5 separate regions of the Homo sapiens genome follow, and all the other regions are linked to region 4. The links come from fine-mapping of genetic effects on plasma protein levels. Region 4 holds a variant in brackets. A gene starts in each other region. All regions are shown on their forward strands. Region 1 holds the start of LCN2 (lipocalin 2). Region 2 holds the start of RETN (resistin). Region 3 holds the start of CRISP3 (cysteine rich secretory protein 3). Region 4 overlaps CSF3R (colony stimulating factor 3 receptor). Region 5 holds the start of CSF3 (colony stimulating factor 3).

What was found. PIP is the posterior inclusion probability: the model's chance that the variant is causal. Protein levels are from antibody-based Olink assays in UK Biobank. Linkage for the fine-mapping came from a reference panel and not from the study's own genotypes, which makes the PIPs less certain.
Region 1: it holds the start of LCN2, and the variant in region 4 is fine-mapped to the plasma level of the LCN2 protein (UK Biobank, PIP above 0.99).
Region 2: it holds the start of RETN, and the variant in region 4 is fine-mapped to the plasma level of the RETN protein (UK Biobank, PIP above 0.99).
Region 3: it holds the start of CRISP3, and the variant in region 4 is fine-mapped to the plasma level of the CRISP3 protein (UK Biobank, PIP above 0.99).
Region 5: CSF3 starts here. The variant in region 4 is fine-mapped to the plasma level of the CSF3 protein (UK Biobank, PIP above 0.99).

Annotation. Positions count from the first base shown.
Region 1 is chr9:128,146,554-128,151,553 of GRCh38, forward strand. It overlaps LCN2 (lipocalin 2), which reads left to right and starts at 2,900. Exons shown (of 7, transcript NM_005564.5): 1 at 2,900-3,110; 2 at 3,685-3,821. The coding sequence starts at 2,973. RefSeq lists an enhancer at 1-120 and a silencer at 4,250-4,299.
Region 2 is chr19:7,666,040-7,672,339 of GRCh38, forward strand. It overlaps RETN (resistin), which reads left to right and starts at 3,010. Exons shown (of 4, transcript NM_020415.4): 1 at 3,010-3,082; 2 at 3,278-3,405; 3 at 3,782-3,859; 4 at 4,180-4,416. The coding sequence starts at 3,288. The coding sequence ends at 4,310. It also overlaps the pseudogene RPS27AP19.
Region 3 is chr6:49,741,324-49,747,623 of GRCh38, forward strand. It overlaps CRISP3 (cysteine rich secretory protein 3), which reads right to left and starts at 3,065. Exons shown (of 8, transcript NM_006061.4): 1 at 3,008-3,065. The coding sequence starts at 3,044.
Region 4 is chr1:36,475,601-36,479,499 of GRCh38, forward strand. It overlaps CSF3R (colony stimulating factor 3 receptor), which reads right to left. Exons shown (of 17, transcript NM_000760.4): 3 at 3,833-3,899; 4 at 1-73. The coding sequence starts at 3,896. Among named protein-coding and RNA genes, the nearest start is that of CSF3R, 5.4 kb to the right of the region's middle. The variant C/G (reference allele first, on the strand shown) is at 2,715.
Region 5 is chr17:40,012,244-40,018,543 of GRCh38, forward strand. CSF3 (colony stimulating factor 3) reads left to right here and starts at 3,197. Exons shown (of 5, transcript NM_172219.3): 1 at 3,197-3,271; 2 at 3,448-3,602; 3 at 3,990-4,097; 4 at 4,242-4,388; 5 at 4,552-5,570. The coding sequence starts at 3,232. The coding sequence ends at 4,716. PSMD3-AS1 (PSMD3 antisense RNA 1) reads right to left here and starts at 2,398. Exons shown (of 3, transcript NR_198981.1): 1 at 2,311-2,398; 2 at 1,995-2,116; 3 at 1-561. RefSeq lists enhancers at 1-2, 3,107-3,606.

The DNA of each region.
Region 1 (5,000 bases), not on the chromosome of region 4:
CTATGTAGAGCTGACCCCCTCCCTGCAGCCCTGCTAGACTCTGAAGAGAGCCAAGGCCAGTGGGTAGGAGACAGGTCTGGAGCTGGTGCAGAGAGAGGAATGAGCCCTGCATGGGTTTGATCAGAAACTCAGCCTTGTGTAGGGACACCCTGGGGCCCGGTGCTGTCCATGCATGACCTCACAGAAGCGCAGAGCTGCCCTCTCTACAGAGGAGCGCCTGATTTGTGTGGGAGCTAGGCAGAGATCTGCATGCATGCGGAGGAGCCAGGCTTCAAGCCAGCCTGGGGGACCCCCAAGCGGGACTATCTCCCCTTCTGCACCTGGCTCTGGTGTCTTCCCACTGTGGACCCAGTGCCCTGCTCACCCACCACATTCATACCCTGGAGTCCTGGGTCCTCAGAGATCCATGACACTGCCTCACCCCCAACTTCAAATTCTCTGGGGCTCCACCCGCTGGTCTCAGCTACGTGAAGCAGTCACCGTAGACTAGAGGGTACTTTTTAGATTTAGGTCACTCTATCATCCAGGCTGGAGTGCAGTGGCACAATCATAGCTCACTGCAGCCTCGGCTTCCTGGGCCCAAGTGATCCTCCCACCTCAGCCTCCCCGAGGATACGTGGTTTTTTTTTTCTTTTTTCAGACAGGGTCTCACTCTGTCTCCCAGGCTGGAGTGCAGTGGTGCGATCTTGGCTCACTGCAGCCTCCGCCTCCCGGGTTCAAGCCATTCTCCTGCCTCAGCCTCCTGAGTAGTTGGGATCATAGGCATGCATCACCCCACCTGGCTAATTTTTGTATTTTTAGTAGAGACGGGGTTTTGCCATATTGGCCAGGCTAGTCCCTGAGGATACATTTTTTTTTTCCCCGAGATGGAGTCTCCCTCTGTCGCCCAGGCTGGAGTGCAATGGCGCAACCTTGGCTCACTGCAACCTCCGCCTCCCAGGTTCAAGCAATTCTTCTGCCTCAGCTTCCCGAGTAGTTGGGATTACAGGCATGCGCCACCATGCCCAACTAATCTTTGTATTTTTACTAGAGACAGGGTTTCACCATGTTGGTCAGGCTGGTCTTGAACACCTGACCTCAGGTTATCCACCCGCCTCAGTCTCCCAAAGTGCTGGAGTTACAGGCGAGAGCCACTGCGCCCAGCCGAGGATACCTTTTTTTTTTTTTTTTTAAGACAGAATATCGCTCTGTTCCAGGCTAAAGTGCAAAGGCGTGATCTCGGCTCACTGCAACCTCCGCCTCCCAGGTTCAAGCTGTTCTTCTGCCTCAGCCTCCCGAGTAGCTGGGATTACAGGCGCCTGCCACCATGCCCTGCTAATTTTTGTATTTTTAGTAGAGATGGGGTTTCACCGTGTTGGCCAGACTGGTCTCGAACTCCTGACCTCGTGATCCACCCGCCTCAGCCTCCCAAATGCTGGGATTACAGATGTGAGCCACCGCACCCGGCCTGGCAGAGGATACTTTTTAAGGTCAAAGACAGTAGCAGAGGTGGAGTTCCTGGGAACAGGGTCATGAGGGGAAGAGGGGGTTCGGAGGGAGCGAGTAGCCACTGGCTACCTCTAGAAAGGGAAGGCTTTGGTGCAACATCGTTCCCCTGCAGTTTTACTCATCTTTGCTTCCTGCCCTTTCATCATCCAATCGGGCAGGCAGGACAGGGCCTGAGGGGGCAGGGATCCAGTGGGTGCCTCTCTAGACTAACCCCAGCTCAGGACTCCCAGAGCCCCTTCCCTGAGGCCCTGCTGCCCCCAAGCCCAGATTGGGGATCCCAAGCAGCACGTAGGCAGAGCCAGTGAGGTCCCCGTTAGTCCCATTGAAAGCTCTAAAACCAGCGAACCCTCAGTCCAGCCTCAGGTCAGGCATCCAGGACGGCCTCAGCCCTCATGGGTGAGCCATCTCTGCGGACACTGCACAGGGCCTACGATCCATCGCTGCCTCCCGAGGATGCCAGCCAGGCCCCCGTTGAGATAACTGCTTCCCTGCTGGACAAGGCTGGGACCAGCCATCTCGGTGACAGTTCCAGAACCCCTGGCCTGGGCTGCTGGGTTCAATGGAAAAAGGCTGTGACTAGAGTCAGGGGGATGGTCTCAGTGACCTCAAGGATAAGGCCAGATCCTTGCACTGTCAGTGACCCAAAGCAACAGGTGTCCAGAGCAGCAGTGTGGCGCCTTCACGCCCCCACACATCAGCCCAACTCACCCAGGACAGGGACTGTAGCCTCAGCACTCAACCCATGTGCCCTGTGTGGGGTCTCTTCCCACTGCACTCACAGGAGAGGAAGGGTCCCTCAGGGGTCCACTGGGGTCCCCTCCTGCAAATGGGGCAAGGAGAGGGGCAAGGGGCTGTCTCAAGGCCCCTGGAGCACATGCAGGTCCTGGACTGGGGCTCCTGGGAGGGCCATGATTCTGGGCTCCATGAGTTCAGAGCAGACGCCTTGTTTTTCCTTGTCCACTGTCAGCCACCCCACCCTTCCCTGACCCTTAAAAGAACCAGGAAACAGCACATGATCTGTTGGAAGGAGGCATTCATTCTTTCCTTTCTGTGGGTGTGGGGAGGGGACCACAGGGCACATACCCCACCCTGGGATCCAGCTGAGCAGGGGGGTCAGAGATGACAGCTCTTCCGGCTCACAGGCCACCGGCCCACATACAGGGCAATCAGAAGAAAGAAACAGCACAAGGAAGGCACAGAGGGAGTCGTTGTCCCTGCCAGAGGTGCAGCACTCCGGGAATGTCCCTCACTCTCCCCGTCCCTCTGTCTTGCCCAATCCTGACCAGGTGCAGAAATCTTGCCAAGTGTTTCCGCAGGAGTTGCTGGCAATTGCCTCACATTCCTGGCCTTGGCAAAGAATGAATCAACCCACCCTAGATCCCATAAATAGGGCCACCCAGGTGAGCCTCTCACTCGCCACCTCCTCTTCCACCCCTGCCAGGCCCAGCAGCCACCACAGCGCCTGCTTCCTCGGCCCTGAAATCATGCCCCTAGGTCTCCTGTGGCTGGGCCTAGCCCTGTTGGGGGCTCTGCATGCCCAGGCCCAGGACTCCACCTCAGACCTGATCCCAGCCCCACCTCTGAGCAAGGTCCCTCTGCAGCAGAACTTCCAGGACAACCAAGTAAGGGGCCAAGAGGGGCACCTGCAGGCAGGGCCTGGGGAAGAGTGGGAGCAGAGGGGAGGAGAGGTGAAGAGACTCAGGAAGAGCGTTGGGCAGGACTCTAGGAGTCCAGGGTCCAGGTTTCAGCTCACTCTGTGCCACCAGGGTCCCCTGGTGGAAACCATGCCCCTTCCCCCCATCCCCACCCCCTCTCAGCCTGAACAGACTCCCCCAGGTCCACATCCCCTCTCCCATAACCCCCATTGTCCAAAGAAGGTGGGAGCACTTTTAGTCCCCCTGCACAGATGAGGAAACTGAGGCTCAGGAAGGCCCACCAGCCACATGCCTCCTCCAGTGAGGAGGTCACCCTCCTCCCTGCCAGACTCAGAACCGCCTCTTCCCCCAGGACTCCCTTCTGGACTGATGGCCTCCTGCTCCTGCCCCTTCACCAGTGCAGGCCCAGCCTGGGCCCTGCTGCCCAGCTAGAGGGGCTCATGGTTCCAAGCTGGGCGGCCCAGAGGTGCCACAGGGACAGAGCTGGAGGGGTGGCTCCTAGGGCCATTCCTGGGTTGTGCCTCTTATCAGTCCCTTGCAGTTCCAGGGGAAGTGGTATGTGGTAGGCCTGGCAGGGAATGCAATTCTCAGAGAAGACAAAGACCCGCAAAAGATGTATGCCACCATCTATGAGCTGAAAGAAGACAAGAGCTACAATGTCACCTCCGTCCTGTTTAGGTGAGGGCCGACATCTCCTGGGGGTGTGAGAGTCAGACTGACGTCACAGGCAAGGGATGGCCAAAGCTGAGGGATCCTGTCGTTCACCTCGCTGTTCTGCCCGGAATTCATCTGTGTTCATCCTTCCTCTGTTCCTTAGAGCAACGTTTATAGCACATTTCCATGCAGACACACAGACAGTGGTGGGGATGGACATGCACAGTCGTTAGAAAACAAGACGGAGAGAGGAGGGGTGCCTGGGAGCGGGAGGAGGGGACACTGGATCCAGCCTGGAACCCCACCCAGTGCCTTCATGGAAGGCTTCCAGGGAGGTGGCCTTAAAAGAGCCAACCTGCTTCAAAAGGAAATGTGGGGTGTTCCCGGCAGGGGCTGGAGTCAGAGAGAGCCCCCCCTTCAGGAAGGAGCAAGCCATCGCAGGGTCACCCTGAGCAGAGCTGCTGAGCAGCCTGGAGGGGCAGGTGGCCACGCTAGCACCTAGCACGGTCCTCAGGCCCCGCCCCAGCGGATCTGCTGCGGAGTGGCTTAGAGCAGGGCTCTTGGGCCGCAGGGTGGGGAGACTTGGTGGGGTGCAGCCTAGGGGGTCGGGAGACCAGCGAAAGTGAAGCGGGGCCGTCACAGGTGTGAGAGAACAGGCGCAGGGTGAAGAGGCAGGGAGCCAGGGATCAGCCGCCCCCAGTGGGTTTCTGACTCTGGCAGCTGAGTGGATTGGGATTGGGGCATTTGTGGAGCAAGGAGCAGAATACAGACAGGTTGGGGAGCTCAGCCCTGGGGTGCCAGGGGATGGGAAGTGGGAGGACTCAAGGATGGGGTCAGGTTTGACCCGAGAGCTAGGGGAACGGCTGGCATGGAGCAGACTGGAAGTACCGAGGTGGATCCCCGGGAGAGGGTATAGGAAGGGAAGCAGCAAGCTGAGTGCAGGGGAGAAATGCAGGGTTTCTGTGTGTTGGGTGGCGGGGGGGGTGAAAGCCACCCAGGGAGGCAGCCAAAGGAAAGAAGGACATCGGGTGCTGGAGGGTCTGAGTGGGGTCCAGGGGCCCCAGGCAGGCCAGGAGGGACAGCCTGGTGTCAGCTCAGGGAGAAGGCCCAGGCCCATCTCGGCTGGGTGGGGTAGGGCCCCTCCAGGTAGTGGGGGATGAGCTGTCACGGGTTGGGCCGGACTGAGAGCAACAGAACCCTGCT
Region 2 (6,300 bases), not on the chromosome of region 4:
CCGGGTCCCAGTTCAAGCAATTCTCCTGCCTCAGCCTCCCGAGTAGCTGGGATTACAGGCACGTGCCACCACGCCCAGCTAATTTTTGTATTTTTAGTAGAGACAGGATTTCACCATGTTGGCCAGGCTGGTCTTGAACTCCTGACCTCGTGATCCACCTGCCTCGGCCTCCCAAAGTGCTGGGATTACAGGCCTGAGCCACTGAGCCCGGCCAGAAGAAGAAGTCTTACCTGCAAGACGAATAAGCACAAGAGAAAGAAGGTGAAGCTGGCTGTCCTGAAATATTATAAGGTGGATGAGAATGGCAAAATTAGTCACCTTCGTCGAGGTTGCCCTTCTGATGAATGTGGTGCTGCAGTGTTTATGGCAAGCCACTTTGACAGACATTATTGTGGCAAATGTTGTCTGACTTACTGCTTCAACAAACCAGAAGACAAATAACTGTATGAATTAACAAAAGACGGCCAGGCGCAGTGGCTTACACCTGTAATCCCAGCACTTTGGGAGGCCGAGACGGGCGGATCACAAGGTCAGGAGATCGAGACCATCCTGGCTAACATGGTGAAACCCCGTCTCTACTAAAAATACAAAAAAATTAGCTGGGCATGGTGGCGGGCGCCTATAGTCCCAGCTACTCGGGAGGCTGAGGCAGGAGAATGGAGTGAACCCGGGAGGCGGAGCTTGCAGTGAGCCGAGATCGTGCCACTGCACTCCAGCCAGGGCAACAGAGTGAGACTCCATCTCAAAAAAGAAAGAAAACCCACAAAAGACGTGAACTAACAAAAACAAACAAACAAACAAAAAAACAAAACAAAAGCTGGAAGCAACCCAAGTGTCCATCGATGGATGAAGGAATAAACACAACGTGGTTCATCCACACAAGGGAATGTGATACAGCCATGGAAAGGAAAACAGTTCTGACTCAGGCTACAGCAGGGATGAACCTTGGGGATATTATGCTCAGTGAAATAAGCAGATACAAAAGGACAAACACTGTGTGATTCCACTCCTAGGAGGTCCCTAGAGTCATCAGATCCATAGAGGCAGAAAGCAAGATGGAGGGTGCCAGGGGCTGGGGAGAGGGATAGGGAGTGAGTGTTTCATGGGGACAGAGTTTCAGTTTGGAAAGAGGAGAAAGTTCTGGAGATGGACGGCAGTGGTGGCTACATAACAACATGAATGTGCTTATTGCCACAGAATTGTGCTCTGAAAAATGGTTAAAATAGGCTGGGCATGGTGGCTCACACCTGTAATCCCGGCACTTTGGGAGGCTGAGGCGGGTGGATCACTTGAGGTCAGGAATTTGAGACCAGCCTGGCCAACATGGTGAAACCCCATCTCTACTAAAAATACAAAAAATTAGCCGGGCATGGTGGTGCACGCCTGTAATCCCAGCTACTCGGGAGGCTGAGGCAGGAGAATTGCTTGAACCCAGGAGGTGGAGGTTGCAGTGAGCCAAGATTGAGCCACTGTACTCCAGCCTGAGCAACTGAGTGAGACTCTGAAACAAAGAAACAAACAAAAGCAATGGTTAAAATGGAACAAGATGGTGCATACCTGTAGCTTCAGCTACTGGGGAGTCCAAGGTGGGAGGATTACTTGAAGCCAGGAGTCTGACACTAGCTTGGGCAACATAGCAAGACCCCGTCTCAAAAAAAAAAAAAAAAAGGCCGGGCACGGTGGTTCACGCCTGTAATCCCAGCACTTTGGGAGGCCAAGGCGGGCAGATCACAAGGTCAGGGGATCGAGACCATCCTGGCTAACACGGTGAAACTCCATCTCTACTAAAAAAAAAAAAATACAAAAAATTAGCTGGGCGTGGTGGCAGGCGCCTGTAGTCCCAGCTACTTGGGAGGCTGAAGCAGGAGAATGGCGTGAACCCAGGAGGCGGAGCTTGTAGTGAGCCGAGATCGCGCCACTGCACTCCAGCCTGGGCGACAGAGCAAGATTCCGTCTCAAAAAAGAAAAAAGTAAGTTATAATGGTAAGTTGTATGTTATATGTATTTTACCACAAAAAGGCCCGTTGTACTGGAAACAAAGAACAAATAAAAATGTAATAACCATTCCAAGCTCATGGGTGGTCCAAGAAGAAACATGAGCTGGACCTTGGCCCATGAGCAATGGCTTTCCAACTTCTGTTGCAGGTGATGCCATTGATGGAATAAACCATGATTTTTCTTTCTTCTTTTTGAGATGGAGTCTTGCTATGGTGCCCAAGCTAGTCATCCAGGATGGAGTGCAGGGGCACGATCTCAGTGCACTGCAACCTCCACATCCCGGGTTCAAGTGATTCTCCCACCTCAGCCTCCCAAGTAGCTGGGATTACAGGCACACGCCACCACGCCCAGTTAATTTTTGTATGTCTAATGGAGACAGGGTTTCATCATGTTGGCCAGGTTGGTCTCAAGCTCCTGACCTCAAGTGATCCGCCCGCCTTGGCCTCCCAAAGTGCTGGGATTACAGGCGTGAGCCACCGGCCATAAACCATGATTTTATTTACCAGTTCTATTGCTCATGGGCATTTGGGTATGAATGTGGTATGTCATTCTCACCCAGAGACATAATTATTATTACTATTTTAGAGAAGTGGTCTTGCTCTGTTGCCCAGACTGGAGTGCAGTGCTGTGATCATAAGTCACTGTAGCTTCGAACTCCCGGGCTCAAGCAATTCTCTCACGTCAGCCTCCTTAGTAGCTGGGACTACAAGTGCTTGTCCGCACCATGCCTAGCAAGAGGCATTAATTTTGTCATGTTTGCATCAGCCACCCTTGCATGCAAAACTCTGCTTGTCTACCTGTTCCTCAGACCACAGCCCCTGGCATTATCCCTGGGGCACCACCTCCTGACCAGTCTCTGGACATGAAGACGGAGGCCCTGTTGGAAGTGGGAAGGCTCCCTTCCTCCTCCAGCCCTTACTGTCTGCTCAGGGGCTTCCTCTTGGCCCCGGATGTGGGACCGGAGGGTTGGGGGCCCAGGGACTTATTAGCCAAGCCAGGAAGCCCCACCCCAAGAGGCCTCAAAGAAAGAGCTGCGGTGCAGGAATTCGTGTGCCGGATTTGGTTAGCTGAGCCCACCGAGAGGGTAAGTGACAGCTGCTCCTGCGCTTGCCATGGCACCAGCGGGGAGGCTGGGGTCAAGGCTGAGCCTCCATCCCTGTCCCCCACATGGGGGGACAGGGGTCCAGGTCCAGGGGCAGATCCTACTCCCTCCATGGGCCGGATCTTCCCCACAGGGCAGGGCTGATCCAGCTGTGGGTCTCTTGGTTCCCTCTTTCAGCGCCTGCAGGATGAAAGCTCTCTGTCTCCTCCTCCTCCCTGTCCTGGGGCTGTTGGTGTCTAGCAAGACCCTGTGCTCCATGGAAGAAGCCATCAATGAGAGGATCCAGGAGGTCGCCGGCTCCCTAAGTGAGGACCCCCCACTTGGGCAAGCTCCCCAAGGGTCTCAGAGACCTCACTGATCCCTGGCACAGACCTGACTCCAACCCAGCCCCAGCGCTCACCAAATCTCATCCTCAAATCCAACCAGATCATAAATTCAACCCCAACTCCACTCCCAACCCCTCCGACTGTCCCCACCTTATCCACGGCTCCAAACCCAATCCCCGCTCTCACTCCAAACCTTCCCTTACTCCAAAACACCCAACTCAAGACAGGGTCCTGGAGGCCAGTGAGCTCCTATGCCCACAGGGACCTAGCTCCAAACCAACAGGGCTAGGGGAGGATGGGGGAGGGACCGTTTGGTCTCACAGCTCCCCCTGTCTCCTTTCCTCCTGCCCCCCAGTATTTAGGGCAATAAGCAGCATTGGCCTGGAGTGCCAGAGCGTCACCTCCAGGGGGGACCTGGCTACTTGCCCCCGAGGTGAGTGCAGGAGACTGTTGTCCAGGCGCCCATTTCTGTTCCAAGTCCCCTGGGAATGCCCCCTCCCCGCCACGTTCCCCGTGTCCAGCCTCTACTCCCCTAGGATCTTGGTCCTGACTCCCAGCCTTCTCCGCCCACCATCTGGACACTGGTGTCCACCCTCACTCCCTGCCTCCAGTGCCCATTCAGTGGTTGGAGCCTCCAGCCGTCCCCGTCCCCACCCCCGCCCCCCCAACCCCCCTCCGCGCTCCCCACCCCCCTCCCGCTCCCACCCTCAGCCTCCCAGCTCAGAGTCCACGCTCCTGTGTTCCGGGCTGCAGGCTTCGCCGTCACCGGCTGCACTTGTGGCTCCGCCTGTGGCTCGTGGGATGTGCGCGCCGAGACCACATGTCACTGCCAGTGCGCGGGCATGGACTGGACCGGAGCGCGCTGCTGTCGTGTGCAGCCCTGAGGTCGCGCGCAGCGCGTGCACAGCGCGGGCGGAGGCGGCTCCAGGTCCGGAGGGGTTGCGGGGGAGCTGGAAATAAACCTGGAGATGATGATGATGATGATGATGATGATGATGGAGCGGATCTGAGCCCTGCGTGGTTTCTTTAGTAGGCCCGGAGGGACTGATCTAGCGTCTCCAAGAGAGTGGGGCGCGTAGCTGCTGGAGGGGGCGGGGACACCGCGACTTTCTACTGCCCCATCGCCCTTCCTCCTATGGGGTCTCCAACTGCTTCCTCCGAAAATAGGGCCTGAACTTCCTCTAGTGACGTCCCCACCCAAGGCTCATGGCTGCCTTCAAGAGGTGACGTCTCATCTTTGAGGCTACCTTGACGCTCACCCTGGGGTCTCCGACCTCCCCAGGAAGTGGCTGGGTCCTTTTCCCCCAGTCCTCATAATGAGGCTTCATCGAGGACCTGGGTCAGTCTGGGCAGTGGACGGGACCCTCCAGGGCCCCAAGACTCCAGGAGCCCCAGGTCAGGGTGGAACCCTGAATCATGTCTCAGCCCAGAGCTGGAACCTGTACCCCTCACTTCCTACCTGCAAGGAGGAATCCCCAAGGCACAGGCAAAGTTGGGTTACGGAGAGTCAGGGACGCCTACCTGACGTCACGCATCATCACAAGCTCACGTTTTCACACAGGCAAGTGCAGTTGTGAGTAGTTAGTTACAACCAGATACACGCAGGGTGCTTACCCCTTCCTGGATACTAGATTATGAAAACACAGAGCAGGGGACTTGTCTGCTCCTAGATCCCCCCCAGGGTTTCGTTTCTTCCCTTCCCTTCCCCTCCCCTCCCCTCCCCTCCCCTCCCCTCCCCTCCTCTCCCCTCTTCTCTTTTCTTTCTTTCTTTCTTTTTTTTTTTTTGAGACAGGGTCTCGCTCTGTTGCCCAGGCTGGAGTGCAGTGGTGCAATCTCGGCTCACCGCAACCTCTGCCTCCTGGGTTCAAGCGATTCTCCTGCCTCAGCCTCCCACGTAGCTGGGACTACAGGCGCTCGCCACCATACCTGGCTAATTTTTGTATTTTTAGTAGAGAAGGAGTTTCACCATGTTGGCTAGGTTGGTCTTGAGCTCCTGGCCTCAAGCGATTCACCCGCCTCAGCCTCCCAAAGTGCTGGGATTACATGCATGAGCCACCGCGCCTGGCCTATTTTTTAATTTTTATTTTCGAGACAAGGTCTTACTCTGGCGCCCAGGCTGGAGTGCAGTGGCACAATCTCGGCTCACTGCAACCTCTGCCTCCTGGGTTCAAGTGATATTCCTGCCTTAGCCTCTCAAGTAGCTGAGATTACAGGTGCCCACCACCATGCCCAGCTAATTTGTATTTTTAGTAGAGAGCGGGTTTCACCATGTTGGCCAGGCTAGTCTCAAACTCCTGACCTCAGGTGATCCACCCACCTCGGCCTTCCAAAGTGCTGGGATTACAGGCATGAGCCACTGCACCCAGCGCCCCCAGGGTTTAGAATAGAGCATGGAACACAGTAGACGTTCAGTAAATGTCTGTTGATCAGTAGCCACATGTGCACTTAGATACAGCACCGACGTGCACATACTGCACATGCACACACAGCTATACACAGCCACGTGCACACACAGAGTACACAACCCACCTACCACGGCCACATGGAGACACCACATCCACAGACACACCCATGTGCCCCTAGACACTCTTGGACACAGAAAGGCACCACCCCCCCGGCCAATGCACGGAGAATCGCAGATTTGACTATGGTGGGCAGAGATGATGCAGGACACAAACACACACATGCTCCAGGCAGACTCTTGCATTTCTGACTCTAGTCCCCACTGCACCTGGATAAGTATCTGATACCCTAGTGCAGCGATCCCCAACCTTTTTGGCACCAGAGACTGTTTTCATGGAAGACAGTTGGTGTGTGTATGGGGTAGGGGGGGAGCGGGGATGGTTTCTGGGTGATTCAAGCGCATTACATTTA
Region 3 (6,300 bases), not on the chromosome of region 4:
TGTAATCTGAGGAGTGGATATAATTCCGGGATTGACTCATAAAAGACGTAAGAATAATAGTAAATAATACATAAGCCCACTTCATAAATGAATTGCAAGAATCCTAACAAAATATTAACTCATCAATTTCAAAAATATATTAAAAATATCATGACCAAGTAAAATTATATGAGGACTGCAAGAATAATTCAAAATTAGAAAATTCATTGGTAAAATTCATCACATTAACAGACTAAAGCAAAGTAATATGACAAAAAATACGTCATTAAATTCAACCCCTGTATGTAGTTTTTTTTTTTTTTTTTTTTTTTAAAGAAAAAATAGAAGAGATCATTACTTTGGTAGGAAGCATATACTGCAAATCTATACCCAATATAATGGTTATTGGAGAAATTCTAGGTGCATTTCATTTAATATTGGGAACAAGAAAAGAATGACTAACACTTTTATTTAACACAGTACTGGAGAGATCCTAATCAAAGCCATAAGAAAAGAAAGTATATACATATATATATATATAATATATACAAGTAATGTAATGTATACATTTTATGTTATATATAATAATATAAAATATATTATTATATATAAAATATTTGTAACTTTTGTAAGAGAAGACGTAAAATTGTTATTGTTTTCAAATGATAAGATCATCTATCTGGAGAACACACCAAAATTAACAATTTTGCTAGATGCACTATCAACTTACAAAAATACCATTTCTATTACTGGAAACACTCAACTAGAATATAAGATTTAAGAAACACTTATAACAGTTAAAAAAACTATACAGTATCTGGGAAACAACAAAACAAATTTAAAAATCCTTTTTGGAAAAAATCTTAAAACTTTAATAAAGAACATAGCAGAAGTTCTGAATAAATTGAGAGTTTTGTAATGCTTTTAAATGGTACATGTTAGCATAAAGATATCAATCCTAAACTAACCTGATAATTGTTTACTTTAATTCCAATACAAATTTTAAGTGGCTTATGAATAACTGAGTAAACTTTTAAAAGAAGAATTGCTTGGGCGCAGTGGCTCATGCCTGTAATCCTAGCACTTTGGGAGGCCAAGGAGGGTGGGTTGCCTGAGCTCAGGAGTTTGAGACCACCCTGCGTAACATGGTGAAACCTCGTCTCTACTAAAACTACAAAAGTTAGCCGGGCATGGTGGTGCATGTCTGTAATCCCAGCTACTGGGGAGGCTGAGGCAGGAGAATTGCTTGAAACTAGGAGGTGGAGGTTGCAGCGAGCCGAGAGTGTGCCACTGCACTCCAGCCTGGGCGACAGAGCAAGACTCCATCTCAAAAAAAAAAAAAAAAAAAAGGAAGAAGAAAAGAAAAAGAAAAAAAAGAAAGAATTAATTGGGTTATCTTTTCATATTAGTTATTAAGATAGACTTCAAACATTTGTTGACAAAAATTTAATATTATTGTAGGAACAGATAAATCAACTGGTGGAGGAAAATACAAAACTTAAGAGACAGACCAAACATCGTAACATTAAAAAGCAAAGGAGGAAGAACAGACTATAGAAATATTTTAAAGGATTACGTGGATTAGAAAAGATGTCAAAAGCATTAACACATGTGAGTATAATGTGTGCACTATAGGTATAGACACATTTATAAACTAGTCACAGCACAGAAAAGTATTTGATGCAATATTTTCTTACTTAAAATTTAATAGTTAATCTTTATTCTGATCACTTTCTTTCATCTTATTATGTATCTGTGATACAGAAAGCAGCCTATGCCAATATGCAAAGTTTGCAAAACTGCTAGACTTCATCAAGTAAGAAATTCGTAAAGATATCCAAATAAGAATAGCTGTCTTGCATTTCTTGAGAAGCACTTTTTTTTCAAGGATGAATTCCCTCCCTTTTACTTGAATTCAATAAATAACGTAACTGAAATTCATAGCAATTATCAGATTTACATTACTTGAGAATTCTGACACTCTTCCTCCCAATTCATCCCTGCCTGTTACAAATCAGAAGCCCCAATTTACCTCATAACTTATCAATGTAGGGTAACTCCCAGGCTTGAAACTTGTCATCAATTTAATTTCTTTTGATCCACTTTCAGAGGTCTTAGTCATACAGGCAGACATTCTAGATTTGGTTTTAACTAGCAGAAGAGGCAACACCGGATCTTCTATGGCTATTGCAAATACTCCCAGAGTTTCCTGGATAGCATTTAGCCACAGGGAAGAAAAGCATTTTACTTTAAAATCTTCTGTCTAGTGGTAAATAACCCCTTTCATGTTGTCATTAGGTAGTTCTGTGGTCTCCTACTATCTGACTCTTCAGAATCACTTCTAATATGCTACGGAAGATAAAGCCGTATGTGGAAATTGCTTCCTTAGATGAAATATGCACGATAGATATTATATTTAAATTACCTACATAAACATGACTGAGTAGACTGACTTTTGACTGAAAAACTTCTAAAAGCCTTTTTTTTTTGTTTTTGATCTGAGTGCATTTCATGAGGTAAATTGCATTTTATGTTGATGGTCTTTAATAAAATACTTTTTAATCTTGAGATCAGTGCTATAATTTTGTTTTGACCAATTTAAAACTTTTGCTATGGCATCCCATATAGCTGTATGTTTTAATATTAGTAAAAGTTACTGATGTGAAAGTATGCACACACATATATTCATAGTTTTTCATTTTTCTATTAAAAATAGTTCTAGTACAATTGTTTCCACAAGTCATAGACATGGGAATTAGTTATATTACTTTAGAATGAAAGGTAAAAATTTATTTAAATTTCAAACTGGATAAAAGTGCTTTTGGAATAATAAAGCTGTCTATGTATTAGCTTCTCAGCTTAAAATGAATATATTAAGATAATTACTCTCATTAAAAGTTATCAATAAACTTTGGAAAATTGTAGATAAAATATACGAATATATCACTTTATCATTGATAAGGTATAAATGTGTTGTTCACCTTGAAATAAATAATGTTCACCTTGAAATAAAGGAGTTATCACTTACCAGTGGTTTCCAGAGCAGGATGAAGTATTTGTTTCATCTATTGACAGAAGGAAGGTGCAGAGAGAGAAGGTTAGAGCCGTATATATGAAACACCTATTTCCTGTTTTGGCAAATTCTGGTTGTGCAAGTAACTCTAGATCAACAAGGCCTGAAACAGGATTTGTCATACCAGTAGTCTCAAATTTCATTGCTGGTTTTCTAGTCATGATTTTGAAATTATTTGGTGATTCCTCAAATGGCTTTTAAAAATAAATTGCTATATCAAGTTTTGTAATTGTGCATTTATTCTTTGAAGTTCATATATTACAATTTATCCATGTTTTTGCCAGTCAATAGTTTGAAAATTCTTAGCCCAATTATTAGCATCACAACATTAGAGTTTTCAGAATTATTTCTGTTGGATTGAAATTAAGCTCATAATTTTTATGAACTCTAGAGAACACAATGTTTTTTACAGCTATCTAAAATGTTTATTAATAATCTATTGGACATTACTGTTTTGGATAATAATTTTATCTTTAATGTTTGTAAATACAAGGCCACAGTGACTTTCAGAACTCAATGGCCAAACACACCATAACTCATTGGTATTTCTATATTCAAAGATGTGCTGTATTTACTTGTATTTTCTGGTTGTATAAAATTAAAGATAATATTGATCTCCAAGCTAAATTATCATTATTTGGTTCTGTTCATCTATGGAAGATGTCAATCATTCCAGGCTTGTTTCCATAGCACAATAATGAAGTGGGGTGGACTAACAATTTCAGATTTCCTCTGATTCTAAAATACAATAATCTTAAATATTGAGTTTATATAAATAAAGAAGTATAAATTAATAAATCACAAGTAGCATATACATAGCACGCAGACATTTCTGCATGCTCATATTGGCATATAGATTGCACCTTGTGGTGCATAATTCAATAGTTTCTGTTCATTTTCATTTTTATATTTAGCTTTATTGATCAATGTGACAAAATGTATAATCACAGATCAATGTCTACACAATAGGCACATTTTAAAATTATAGTTAATTTTGAGTTCAAGAATTGGATACTTCTAAATGTCTGTTATAAGAGAGTTGAGAACTCAGAAACTCAGGTCAGATTTTACCATTAAAAAATGGTTAACCATTTGCTGCCATGTCTCCAAGTAACTCCTAGAATCTGTTTACTTTATGAACATGTGAAGTGGAAGCTCTCAATAAACCAAATCAGCTATGTGGAAAAAATCACCATGGAACAACCTTCTACACAATCCTCTTTCTGTGGCAAAATGTATTTTGTGGGGAAGGACCAGACCCAGAAGCATCCACAGCCCATTCTCTTCTCTACTTAGTGGTGTAGAATGTTGTTAAAAGCTTGATATTTCTGTTTTAATGGAAATGGGCTAAATTTCTATACCAATGTGTATTGGGAAATTTTTATATTTTATTATTTTATTTTATATCATATTTTATTTTATTTGAAGCAGGATCTCACTCTATCATCCAAACTGGAGTGCAGTGGTTAGATCAGAACTCATTGTAGCCTTGAATTTCTGGGCTCAAGGGATCTCCTATTTCAGCTTCCCAAGGAGCTGAGACCATGGTGTGCACTACTATACACAGCTAATTTTTTAAATTTTTTTGTAGAGACAGAGTCTTGCTATGTTGCCCAGCTAGTGTCGAATTTCTGGCTTCAAGCAATCCTCCTGTCTTGGCCTCCCAAAGTTCTGGACTTACAGGCATGAGCCACAGCACCTACTTTATTAGGAAATTATTATTCTGATTGTAAATTTTCATATTTATCATAAATGGGAATAATATTAATTGTATTTAATTGTGATACATAATATATGTAAGCTGCCTGCCATGTAGTAAGTATTTCCAGTGTTAATTCTCTCCCACTTTATGCACTTTTCTTCTGTATCTAGACAAACCTACCCCTAATATTTGTAAGCTGTGGGATTGCACTTGAGTTTTAGGACATGGTTTGACTTACTAAGCTATAGGCAGTTCTGTGAGAAATTACCATAAGTAGACACAAAACAGTATAAAAAGGAAAAATATTTTTGCCTCATTATTCAAACTTGATAGTTTTTCTCTAACTTTTTACTGAGTTATGACTAAATGACCACTAGATGCACCATGATGTAGAAGGCATTTTGCTTGTCAAATATTGGTACATTTATTATTAAGCTAAATAAGTATATGTGGTCTTTTTGGGTCACAAAATACCATACACACGTTGGACTGACAGACTGACTTCAATCTGACCTTAAGTGTCCAAAATGGCTGTTTCTAGTCACCTTTGTTCTCTCATTTCCCATGATTAGGTTGTCTTTTCTGTATTTACGTGTCCCAAGGTCATTGCTGGCCCTTCATGATCCATGTCTCCCAATTTTAGCAGTGAGTGTCTTCCAGCTCTTATTTGGATATCTAAGTTCCATCTTAAAAGAGCAAATAGTTTGTTCCTGTATATACATTTTAATCTATTCCCACTATTCTATTGAAACTTATCAATGAGTCTCTTAGCGACTGTTGCTATTAATCATTACATTTTGTTTTAGGAATGCTCCTTTTCTTACTCTTTAAAATTATTCTTCTATTCCTATGCTTTGACTAGTACAGTGTAACCAGATTGTCTATAATATGAATAAATAAAGCACAGCTTCCATCTCTTCCTAGTCAGCCCTTCTCTCATCTTAGATACAACAACATCTGAATGCTGCCTTCCTGGGATTTCTACACTGACCACCCAAAACTGACTAGTTATTACAAGGGCAACTGGGATCCCTGCCTTACAGCTGAACTCTTGACCCAGCTTTTTATGACTTTTACTTCCCCATTATTACCAACTACCTATAGTTTACTGATTACAGTCTTTGGAAATTGCCAGGTCTGAGAAATCCTTTCTGAGCTTCAGTTTTCTCTTCTCTGAAATGTGAATTTTCATATCATACGTTGGTTTTAATGACTGAAAAGCATAATTTGTGTATAAAAATGTACTGAATACATAATTAAACTATTAGTGCGATGCTTGGCATGTGACACTCAATAAATGGAATTATTAACATTTGTATTATTATCCCTTCCAAAGCCTGGTATTTCCTGAGTACATAAAAGTCTTCCACGAATGCATTTTGTTTGATTGAACTGCCAATTCAGGAGTCTTTATAAGAAGTCTTTCTTGTTTTAGGTATTTAGGAAACAATCATAGTTTAACCAGAAATTCAAGTGTTTAAGGTGCAGTTCTATCAAAGCCTGTCAGGGTGACTTTAACAAAATGATTGAGCATCTCTCATTTTCT
Region 4 (3,899 bases):
CAGGAGGCTGTGATGGGATCCCCCAGGTGGACGATGGGGGCTGAGACACTGATGTGCCCGCACTCCTCCAGACCTGGGGTGGAAGAGAATGGGCCAGGAACGACGCCTCTGCCTAGCAGAGCTGGGCTATAATCTAGGCCTTTGTACTCCTAGACTCAGAGGCCTCACCTTCCTGTCTCACCCTTCAAGATATGGGGGCTGGAAATGGAAGGATGGGGACGGAGACTTCGAGAGGCTACGGGGGTGACACAGAGATAGTGATGTGCTGGTAACCGTTTATCAGCCAGCTTGGCAGAGAAAAGCAGACCCTGGTTTGTAGTGTGTGCCTTTCCGCGGTGTAAGTGCTCTCACTGTAGCTGATTTCAGCCTATTGATGTGACATCATTGATCGGGGAGTTGGGAAGAGATGTGCACAATTAGTTTTTGCAAGCCAGCACCAGCACACCACCAGATGGAGACTGTTAACTCCCCAGTGCCCTCCCCAAGGATGGTGCAAGCAGTGATTAGAGTGATAAGAACCCATAGCCACAGCAATCTTTTCACAATTCAAATCTGATTCTGCTACCCCATCTCCATCGCAGCACTTCAATGGCACATTATTGCTCTGAAAGGCAGTGTGGTGTGATGGATGAGTGTGGATGTTGGAACTAGACTGCCTAGGTTTAAATTCTGGTTCTATTGCTTATTAATTACATGATCCTGGTATATTTCTAAGACTTCCTGTGCCTCAGTTTTCTCATCTGTAAAATGGGGATAAAAATCGTCCCTACCTTAGTGTTGCTGGAAGGATTACATGCGATAACATATGGAAGGCATTTAGAGCAGTGTCTGGCATGTGAGTATTTGCTGCCATCATTAGGATAAACACTCAAATCCTTCAATAGCTCCTGTGGCCTGGCCCCTGCCTGACCCTCTCAGTTCCAGCTTATACCGGTCTCTCAGCTCCAGCTATTCTGGCTCATTCTTGCTATTCTTTGAAAACTCCAAAATCTTTCTAATCTCTGGATCTTTGTCCCTGCTGTTTTTTTTTTTTTGTTGTTGTTGTTTTGTTTTGGTTTTCTTTTTCTTTTCTTTTTTTTCTTCAAGTTCTTGCTCTGTCACTCAGGCTGGAGTGCAGTGGCACGATCACGGCTCAGTGCACCCTTGACCTCCTAGGCTCAAGTGATCTTCCCACCTCAGCCTCCTGAGTAGCTGGGACTACAGGTTCATGCCAGCACACCTTGCTAATTTTTTGATTTTTTTTTTTTTTGGTAGAGATGGGGTTTCACTATGTTGCCTAGGCTAATCTTGAGCTCCTGGGCTCAAGCAATCCTCCTGCTTCAGCCTCCCAAAGTGCTGGGACTACAGATGTGAACCACTGTGCCCGGCATGCTGTTCTTTTTGGAGGGACTCTTCTTTCTCTCTCCCACCCCTGTTTCACCTGGTTAACGCTTAGGCATCTTGAAGAAACCAGACCAGGCACTAACGAACTGGAGGAGGCCAAGGTCCCTGTACTTCCTCAAAGCTCTTATTATCCTTCATAATTATAGAGTCTTATGATTATTTACTTATCTATCACTCCAGCTAGACTATAAATTCTGTGAGGCCAGCAGACCTTGGCTGTTTGCTTATTACTGTATTCCCAGTGCCTAGTACAGAGTAGGACCTTGGTGAATATTTATTATTATTATTATTTTGAGAAGGAGTTTCGCTCTGTCACCCAGGCTGGAGTGCTGTGGCACAATCTCGGCTCACTGCAACCTCCGCCTCCCAGGTTCAAGCGATTCTCCTGCCTCAGCCTCCCGAAAAGCTGGGGCTACAGGCACGCACCACCATGCCCGGCTAATTTTTTTTTGTATTTTTAGTAGAGATGGGTTTTCACCATGCTGGCAGGCTGGTCTCGATCTCCTGACCTCGTGATCCACCCGCCTCAGCCTCCCAAAGTGCTAGGATGACAGGCATGAGCCACTGCGCCCGGCCGATGAATTTTTTTTGATAAATAAATAAACAAACAAATCAACATACACTTTGCCCGCAATGCTTTCTGTCCTCTCTCAGGTGTTCTTAGGCCCGTTTTACTGATGGGGATGCGAAGGCCCTAAGAGGAGAAGCAGTTTGCCCAGGGTCACAGAGCAAGTTCATGATTCTCAACAAAGGGCTTCTACTGCTTCACAGGCTCAGGATTTCTTTTTTTTTTTTGAGACGGAGTCACTCTGCTGCCCAGGCTGGAGTGCAGTGGCGTGATCTCGGCTTACTGCAAGCGCCGCCTGCTGGGCTCACGCCATTGTCCTGCCTCAGCCTCCCGAGTAGCTAGGACTACAGGCACCCGGCACCATGCCCGGCTAATTTTTTGTATTTTTAGTAGATACAGGGTTTCACTGTGTTCACCAGGATGGTCTCGATCTCCTGACCTTGTGATCCACCCGCCTAGGCCTCCCAAAGTGCTGGGATTACAGGCGTGAGCCACCGCGCCCGGCCCAGACTCAGGATTTCAGGCTGGAAGAAACTTTACAAGGTTGTTTGCTTCAAAACTCTACCTGATGCTCTGCCCTCTACAGCAGGGCTTGAGTGGCCTATTTTTGTATAGCCTAACAACTAAAGATGTTTCTTACATTTTAAAAGAGTTAAAAACAAGCAAAGCAAAAACCAAATAAAAACATGCCACAGGGCTGGGCGCGGTGGTTCATGCCTGTAATCCCAGCACTTTGGGAGGCCGAGGTGAGTGGATCACCTGA[C/G]GTCAGGAGTTTGAGACCAGCCTGGCCAACATGGTGAAACCCCATCTCTAGTAAAAATACAAAAATTTGCAGGGCCTGGTGGCAGGTGCCTGTAATCCCAGCTATTCGGGAGGCTGAGGCAGGAGAATCGCTTGAACCCGGCAGGCGGAGGTTGCAGTGAGCTGAGATCCCGCTACTGTACTTCAGCCTGGGCAAGAGAGTGAGACTCCATCTCAAAAAACAAAAAAACAAAAACCAAAAAACATGCAATAGGCAGGGCGTGGCGGGTCATGCTTGTAATCCCCATACTTTGGGAGGTCAGGGCAGGTGGATTGCTGGAACCCAGGAGTTTGAGACCAGCCTGGGCAACATGGCAAAACTACATCTCTACAAAAAAATACAACAACAAAAAAAAATTAGCTGGGTGTGGTGGCATGCCCTGCACTACCTTGGAGGCTGAGGCGGGAGGATCACTTGAGCCCAGGAGGTTGAGGCTGCAGTGAGCTGCGATTGTGCCACTGCACTCCAGCCTGGGCAACAGAGGGAGACCCTGTCTCACAAACGAACAAACAAACAAACAAACAAACAAACAAGGAACAGAGACAGTATGTGGCCTGCAAAGCCTAAACATTACTGTCAGAAAAAGTTTGCCAACCCCTGCTGCACAGCATCTTTATCAATCCTGGCTTTAGCTTGCATACCCCTGGGGATGGGAAGTTCTCTACCTCTCAAGACAGAGTTTCCATGGTTGGAAACCAAGCTCTGCCTGGGCTTCTTTATTTCAGGATGAAACCTGTCCCCTTGTAGCTTCCATCCTGATCCCTTTGCTGCCCACCAAGGCTGCATAGGACCCATGGGTTGCTTCTGACAGCTTGGTAGAGATTTGCGGACAAGATCTGCGCCTCACTGGCCTTTTCCAGGATGACCAGCCCGGGTCGTCTCACCATTCCTCTTGGGTGGTGGTTTGCCTGTGGAAGTCTGTGGGTGGGAGACCAGCTACCCCACATCTGTGGCTCAGACTTGAATCTTGTGGGATTCTCTGGGAATCCCAGGAGCCATGTGGCAGTGCAAGGAAATTCCCAATATCTCTCCTTGTAGCTTCCCCTCCCCACTGCACCCTCATCCTTGGCCATACTCACTTCCGGGGAGCAGCAGGATGATCAGGGCAGCCCAAGTCAGGCTGCAGTTTCCCAGCCTTGCCATAGC
Region 5 (6,300 bases), not on the chromosome of region 4:
CAGCGCCCTGTCAAAACAGACCACTCGGCTCTACCAATCAGCAGGATGTGGGTGGGGCCAGATAAGAGAATAAAAGCAGGCTGCCCGAGCCAGCAGTGGCAACGGGCACAGGTCCCCATCCACAATATGGCAGCTTTGTTCTTTTGCTGTTTGCGATAAATCTTGCTACTGCTCGCTTTTTGGGTCCACACTGCTTTTATGAGCTGTAACACTCACCACGAAGGTCTGCAGCTTCACTCCTGAAGCCACTAAGACCACGAGCCCACCGGGAGGAATGAACAACTCCGGCCGCGCTGCCTTAAGAGCTATAACACTCACCGCGAAGGTCTGCAGCTTCACTCCTCAGCCAGCGAGACCACGAACCCACCAGAAGGAAGAAACTGCGAACACATCTGAACATCAGAAGGAACAAACTCCAGATGCACCACCTTAAGAGCTGTAACACTCACTGCGAGGGTCCGCGGCTTCCTTCTTGAAGTCAGTGAGACCAAGCACTCACCAGTTTCGGACACAAGCCCAGGAGTTTGAGATCAGCCTGGGCAACATGATGAAATGCCCTCTCTGCAAAAAAAAAAAAATTACAAAAATTGGCGGAGCATGGTGGTCCGTGCCTGTGGTCCCAGCTACGCGGGAGGCTAAAGTGGGAGGATCGCTTGAGCCTGGGAGGTGAAGACTGCAGTGAGCTGTGATTGTACCACAGCCCTCTAGGCTGGGGGACAGACTGAGACCCTGTTTCCCCTCCGCAAAAAAATTGACAAAAGTGTAATAAGAGGTGCCTGATATGGCTAGGCGCAGTGGCTCATGCCTGTAATCCCAGCACTTTGGGAAGCCGAGGCGGGCGGGTCACCTAAGGTCAGGAGTGTGAGACCAGCCTGGCCAACATGGAGAAAGCCCATCTCTTCTAAAAATACAAAATTAGCCGGCTGTGGGGGCAGTGGTGGAGCATGCCTGTAATCCCAGCTACTCAGGAGGCTGAGGCAGGAGAATCACTTGAACCCAGGAGGCGGCGGTTGCAGTGAGCCGAGATCGTGCCATTGCACTCCACCCACTCCAGCCTGGGCAACAAGAGCCAAACTCTGTCTTAAAAAAAAAAAAAAAAAGTGCCTGACATATAAGAGGTGTGCAATGCAATAGTTGCCAGGCAACATGTTTAAGAATGTGGAGCTCCTGCCTTCCATGGTCCTGTTAAAAACCCACCCTCAAGGCCAGGTGCAGTGGCTCATGCCTATAATCCCAGCACTTTGGGAGGCCGAGGCGGGTGGATCACCTGAGGTCAGGAGTTCGAGACCAGCCTGACCACCAACATGGTGAAATCCCACCTCTACTAAAAATACAAAATTAGATGAGCATGGTGGTGCATGCCTGTAATCCCACCTACTTGGGAGGCTGAGGCAGGAAAATCACTAGAACCAGGGAGGCGGAGGTTGTAGTGAGCCGAGATCGTGCCATTGCACTCCAGCCTGAGCAATGAGCGAAACTCCATCTCAAAAAAACAACAACAAAAACCCACCCTCTACTCCCAGGGAGCTGGGTACAGAGCTGGGCCACATCAGTGCAAGGTGCTGAGCCACAGAGCTAAGGCGGAGCTGCAGGACCGCGGACCAGATAACAGTGTGTGAGATCAGTGTGTGAGATCAGACGTCCCTGCCATTGGTGACCACCAGGGGGCCCCCAAGCACCAGAGATGGCCCCATCCAGTCACCACATCCACTTCTCATCCAGAGATGTCTGTTTCTTGGCACGCTGGGGTAAATTAGGACAGAAGGTGACAGTCTTGGGTGTGGTCAGTCAGACTGCCCCAGGCAGGCCTTGTGGCCTGTAGAAAACGTTCAGGCCTAGGCCGGGCACGGTGGCTCACGCCTGTAATCCCAGCACTTTGGGAGGCCGAGGCGGGTGGATCACGAGGTCAGGAGATCGTGACCATCCTGGCTAACACGGTGAAACCCCGTCTCTACTAAAAATACAAAAAATTGGCCGGGCATGGTGGCGGGCACCTGTAGTTCCAGCTACTCGGGAGGCTGAGGCAGGAGAATGGCGTGAACCCGAGAGGCAGAGTTTGCAGTGAGCCGAGATCGCGCCACTGCACTCCAGCCTGGGCGACAGAGCAAGACTCCATCTGGAAAAGAAAAAGAAAACGTTCAGGTCTGAGCCAGAGGCCCAGGCTGTAATTCTGTCACTTACCATGACCTTGGGCAAGGCACTTCCTTCCCTGGCCCAGTTCACGGGGTTGGAATCGACTCCAAGGTCCCTTCCAGCATTAACGCTGCATGGTTCTAAGATGAGAAGATGGGGCAGTTTCCCCTCTCTCACCCCAGCCCGTGTCCACTTCAAGGTGAATGACCAGGGAAGTCACGTGTCCCAATCCCGCAGTTCCAAAGCCCTTGGGGACCCTACTGTCAGGGTCGTGCACGAGGAGGTGAAGGTCAGGTGAGCCAATCGCCTCGAAGGGTCTTGCCTCATTCGGGACAGACATCCGGTTTCCTCTGGCTCTACCGGGATTCTAGGGGCTTTAGCCGAATGAGTCATGGGGGGCGGGGGGGTTTCTGGGGGAGTTCCCAGCTAATCAACTTGGGACAGGACAGCCTGGAACTTTCGATGGTGCCTATCCAAGTGTGGGGTGGGCACAGCAGCCAAGACCCAATGTCCTTATCTCAGGTAGGGGCTCAGGAGGTCTCCCAGACAGGCAGCCTCCGGAGAGTTTGGGGGTAGGAATGGGAGCAACCAGCTTCTTTTTTTCTCTCTTAGAATTTGGGGGCTTGGGGGACAGGCTTGAGAATCCCAAAGGAGAGGGGCAAAGGACACTGCCCCCGCAAGTCTGCCAGAGCAGAGAGGGAGACCCCGACTCAGCTGCCACTTCCCCACAGGCTGCTGCCGCTTCCAGGCGTCTATCAGCGGCTCAGCCTTTGTTCAGCTGTTCTGTTCAAACACTCTGGGGCCATTCAGGCCTGGGTGGGGCAGCGGGAGGAAGGGAGTTTGAGGGGGGCAAGGCGACGTCAAAGGAGGATCAGAGATTCCACAATTTCACAAAACTTTCGCAAACAGCTTTTTGTTCCAACCCCCCTGCATTGTCTTGGACACCAAATTTGCATAAATCCTGGGAAGTTATTACTAAGCCTTAGTCGTGGCCCCAGGTAATTTCCTCCCAGGCCTCCATGGGGTTATGTATAAAGGCCCCCCTAGAGCTGGGCCCCAAAACAGCCCGGAGCCTGCAGCCCAGCCCCACCCAGACCCATGGCTGGACCTGCCACCCAGAGCCCCATGAAGCTGATGGGTGAGTGTCTTGGCCCAGGATGGGAGAGCCGCCTGCCCTGGCATGGGAGGGAGGCTGGTGTGACAGAGGGGCTGGGGATCCCCGTTCTGGGAATGGGGATTAAAGGCACCCAGTGTCCCCGAGAGGGCCTCAGGTGGTAGGGAACAGCATGTCTCCTGAGCCCGCTCTGTCCCCAGCCCTGCAGCTGCTGCTGTGGCACAGTGCACTCTGGACAGTGCAGGAAGCCACCCCCCTGGGCCCTGCCAGCTCCCTGCCCCAGAGCTTCCTGCTCAAGTGCTTAGAGCAAGTGAGGAAGATCCAGGGCGATGGCGCAGCGCTCCAGGAGAAGCTGGTGAGTGAGGTGGGTGAGAGGGCTGTGGAGGGAAGCCCGGTGGGGAGAGCTAAGGGGGATGGAACTGCAGGGCCAACATCCTCTGGAAGGGACGTGGGAGAATATTAGGAGCAGTGGAGCTGGGGAAGGCTGGGAAGGGACTTGGGGAGGAGGACCTTGGTGGGGACAGTGCTCGGGAGGGCTGGCTGGGATGGGAGTGGAGGCATTACATTCAGGAGAAAGGGCAAGGGCCCCTGTGAGATCAGAGAGTGGGGGTGCAGGGCAGAGAGGAACTGAACAGCCTGGCAGGACATGGAGGGAGGGGAAAGACCAGAGAGTCGGGGAGGACCCGGGAAGGAGCGGCGACCCGGCCATGGCGAGTCTCACTCAGCATCCTTCCATCCCCAGTGTGCCACCTACAAGCTGTGCCACCCCGAGGAGCTGGTGCTGCTCGGACACTCTCTGGGCATCCCCTGGGCTCCCCTGAGCAGCTGCCCCAGCCAGGCCCTGCAGCTGGTGAGTGTCAGGAAAGGATAAGGCTAATGAGGAGGGGGAAGGAGAGGAGGAACACCCATGGGCTCCCCCATGTCTCCAGGTTCCAAGCTGGGGGCCTGACGTATCTCAGGCAGCACCCCCTAACTCTTCCGCTCTGTCTCACAGGCAGGCTGCTTGAGCCAACTCCATAGCGGCCTTTTCCTCTACCAGGGGCTCCTGCAGGCCCTGGAAGGGATCTCCCCCGAGTTGGGTCCCACCTTGGACACACTGCAGCTGGACGTCGCCGACTTTGCCACCACCATCTGGCAGCAGGTGAGCCTTGTTGGGCAGGGTGGCCAAGGTCGTGCTGGCATTCTGGGCACCACAGCCAGGCCTGTGTATGGGCCCTGTCCATGCTGTCACCCCCAGCATTTCCTCATTTGTAATAACGCCCACTCAGAAGGGCCCAACCACTGATCACAGCTTTCCCCCACAGATGGAAGAACTGGGAATGGCCCCTGCCCTGCAGCCCACCCAGGGTGCCATGCCGGCCTTCGCCTCTGCTTTCCAGCGCCGGGCAGGAGGGGTCCTGGTTGCCTCCCATCTGCAGAGCTTCCTGGAGGTGTCGTACCGCGTTCTACGCCACCTTGCCCAGCCCTGAGCCAAGCCCTCCCCATCCCATGTATTTATCTCTATTTAATATTTATGTCTATTTAAGCCTCATATTTAAAGACAGGGAAGAGCAGAACGGAGCCCCAGGCCTCTGTGTCCTTCCCTGCATTTCTGAGTTTCATTCTCCTGCCTGTAGCAGTGAGAAAAAGCTCCTGTCCTCCCATCCCCTGGACTGGGAGGTAGATAGGTAAATACCAAGTATTTATTACTATGACTGCTCCCCAGCCCTGGCTCTGCAATGGGCACTGGGATGAGCCGCTGTGAGCCCCTGGTCCTGAGGGTCCCCACCTGGGACCCTTGAGAGTATCAGGTCTCCCACGTGGGAGACAAGAAATCCCTGTTTAATATTTAAACAGCAGTGTTCCCCATCTGGGTCCTTGCACCCCTCACTCTGGCCTCAGCCGACTGCACAGCGGCCCCTGCATCCCCTTGGCTGTGAGGCCCCTGGACAAGCAGAGGTGGCCAGAGCTGGGAGGCATGGCCCTGGGGTCCCACGAATTTGCTGGGGAATCTCGTTTTTCTTCTTAAGACTTTTGGGACATGGTTTGACTCCCGAACATCACCGACGCGTCTCCTGTTTTTCTGGGTGGCCTCGGGACACCTGCCCTGCCCCCACGAGGGTCAGGACTGTGACTCTTTTTAGGGCCAGGCAGGTGCCTGGACATTTGCCTTGCTGGACGGGGACTGGGGATGTGGGAGGGAGCAGACAGGAGGAATCATGTCAGGCCTGTGTGTGAAAGGAAGCTCCACTGTCACCCTCCACCTCTTCACCCCCCACTCACCAGTGTCCCCTCCACTGTCACATTGTAACTGAACTTCAGGATAATAAAGTGTTTGCCTCCAGTCACGTCCTTCCTCCTTCTTGAGTCCAGCTGGTGCCTGGCCAGGGGCTGGGGAGGTGGCTGAAGGGTGGGAGAGGCCAGAGGGAGGTCGGGGAGGAGGTCTGGGGAGGAGGTCCAGGGAGGAGGAGGAAAGTTCTCAAGTTCGTCTGACATTCATTCCGTTAGCACATATTTATCTGAGCACCTACTCTGTGCAGACGCTGGGCTAAGTGCTGGGGACACAGCAGGGAACAAGGCAGACATGGAATCTGCACTCGAGCAGCCAAAGCCTGGCAGGGAAGACAGAGGCACAGGGACCATGGGAACCCGGAAAGGAGAGGGCATGGGGTCTGGGTGGGCTTAACAGGCCAGACACAGCCAGACAAGATGAAGCCAGGGAGTGCTGAGCATCTGCACCAGGCTTGTCATTTACCATCTTCCATAAACTTGAGCCCATCCATCAAGTTGCCCACAAAGTGGAAGCCAAGTTCAAGGTGACCACTGGGGTCAGAGCTTCTCTCCTCAGACTCGGTCTCTGCACTCGCCCCAGCTGGTCACTTCCTGCTTGTGGCAGCCTTGGGCTGAAGAGCGCTAAGCTCACAGCCCAGGAGGGTGGGGAGCTGTGGCAAGCAGGGGGGGCAGCGACCGCACCACAGGTGTGAGGCCTGCCTGCAGCCAAAGACTCCTGTGTGGCTTTGGGGTACCCCCACCAGTCCCCAGTCCACTATCTGCCCAAACCTTCTCCTCCTCAG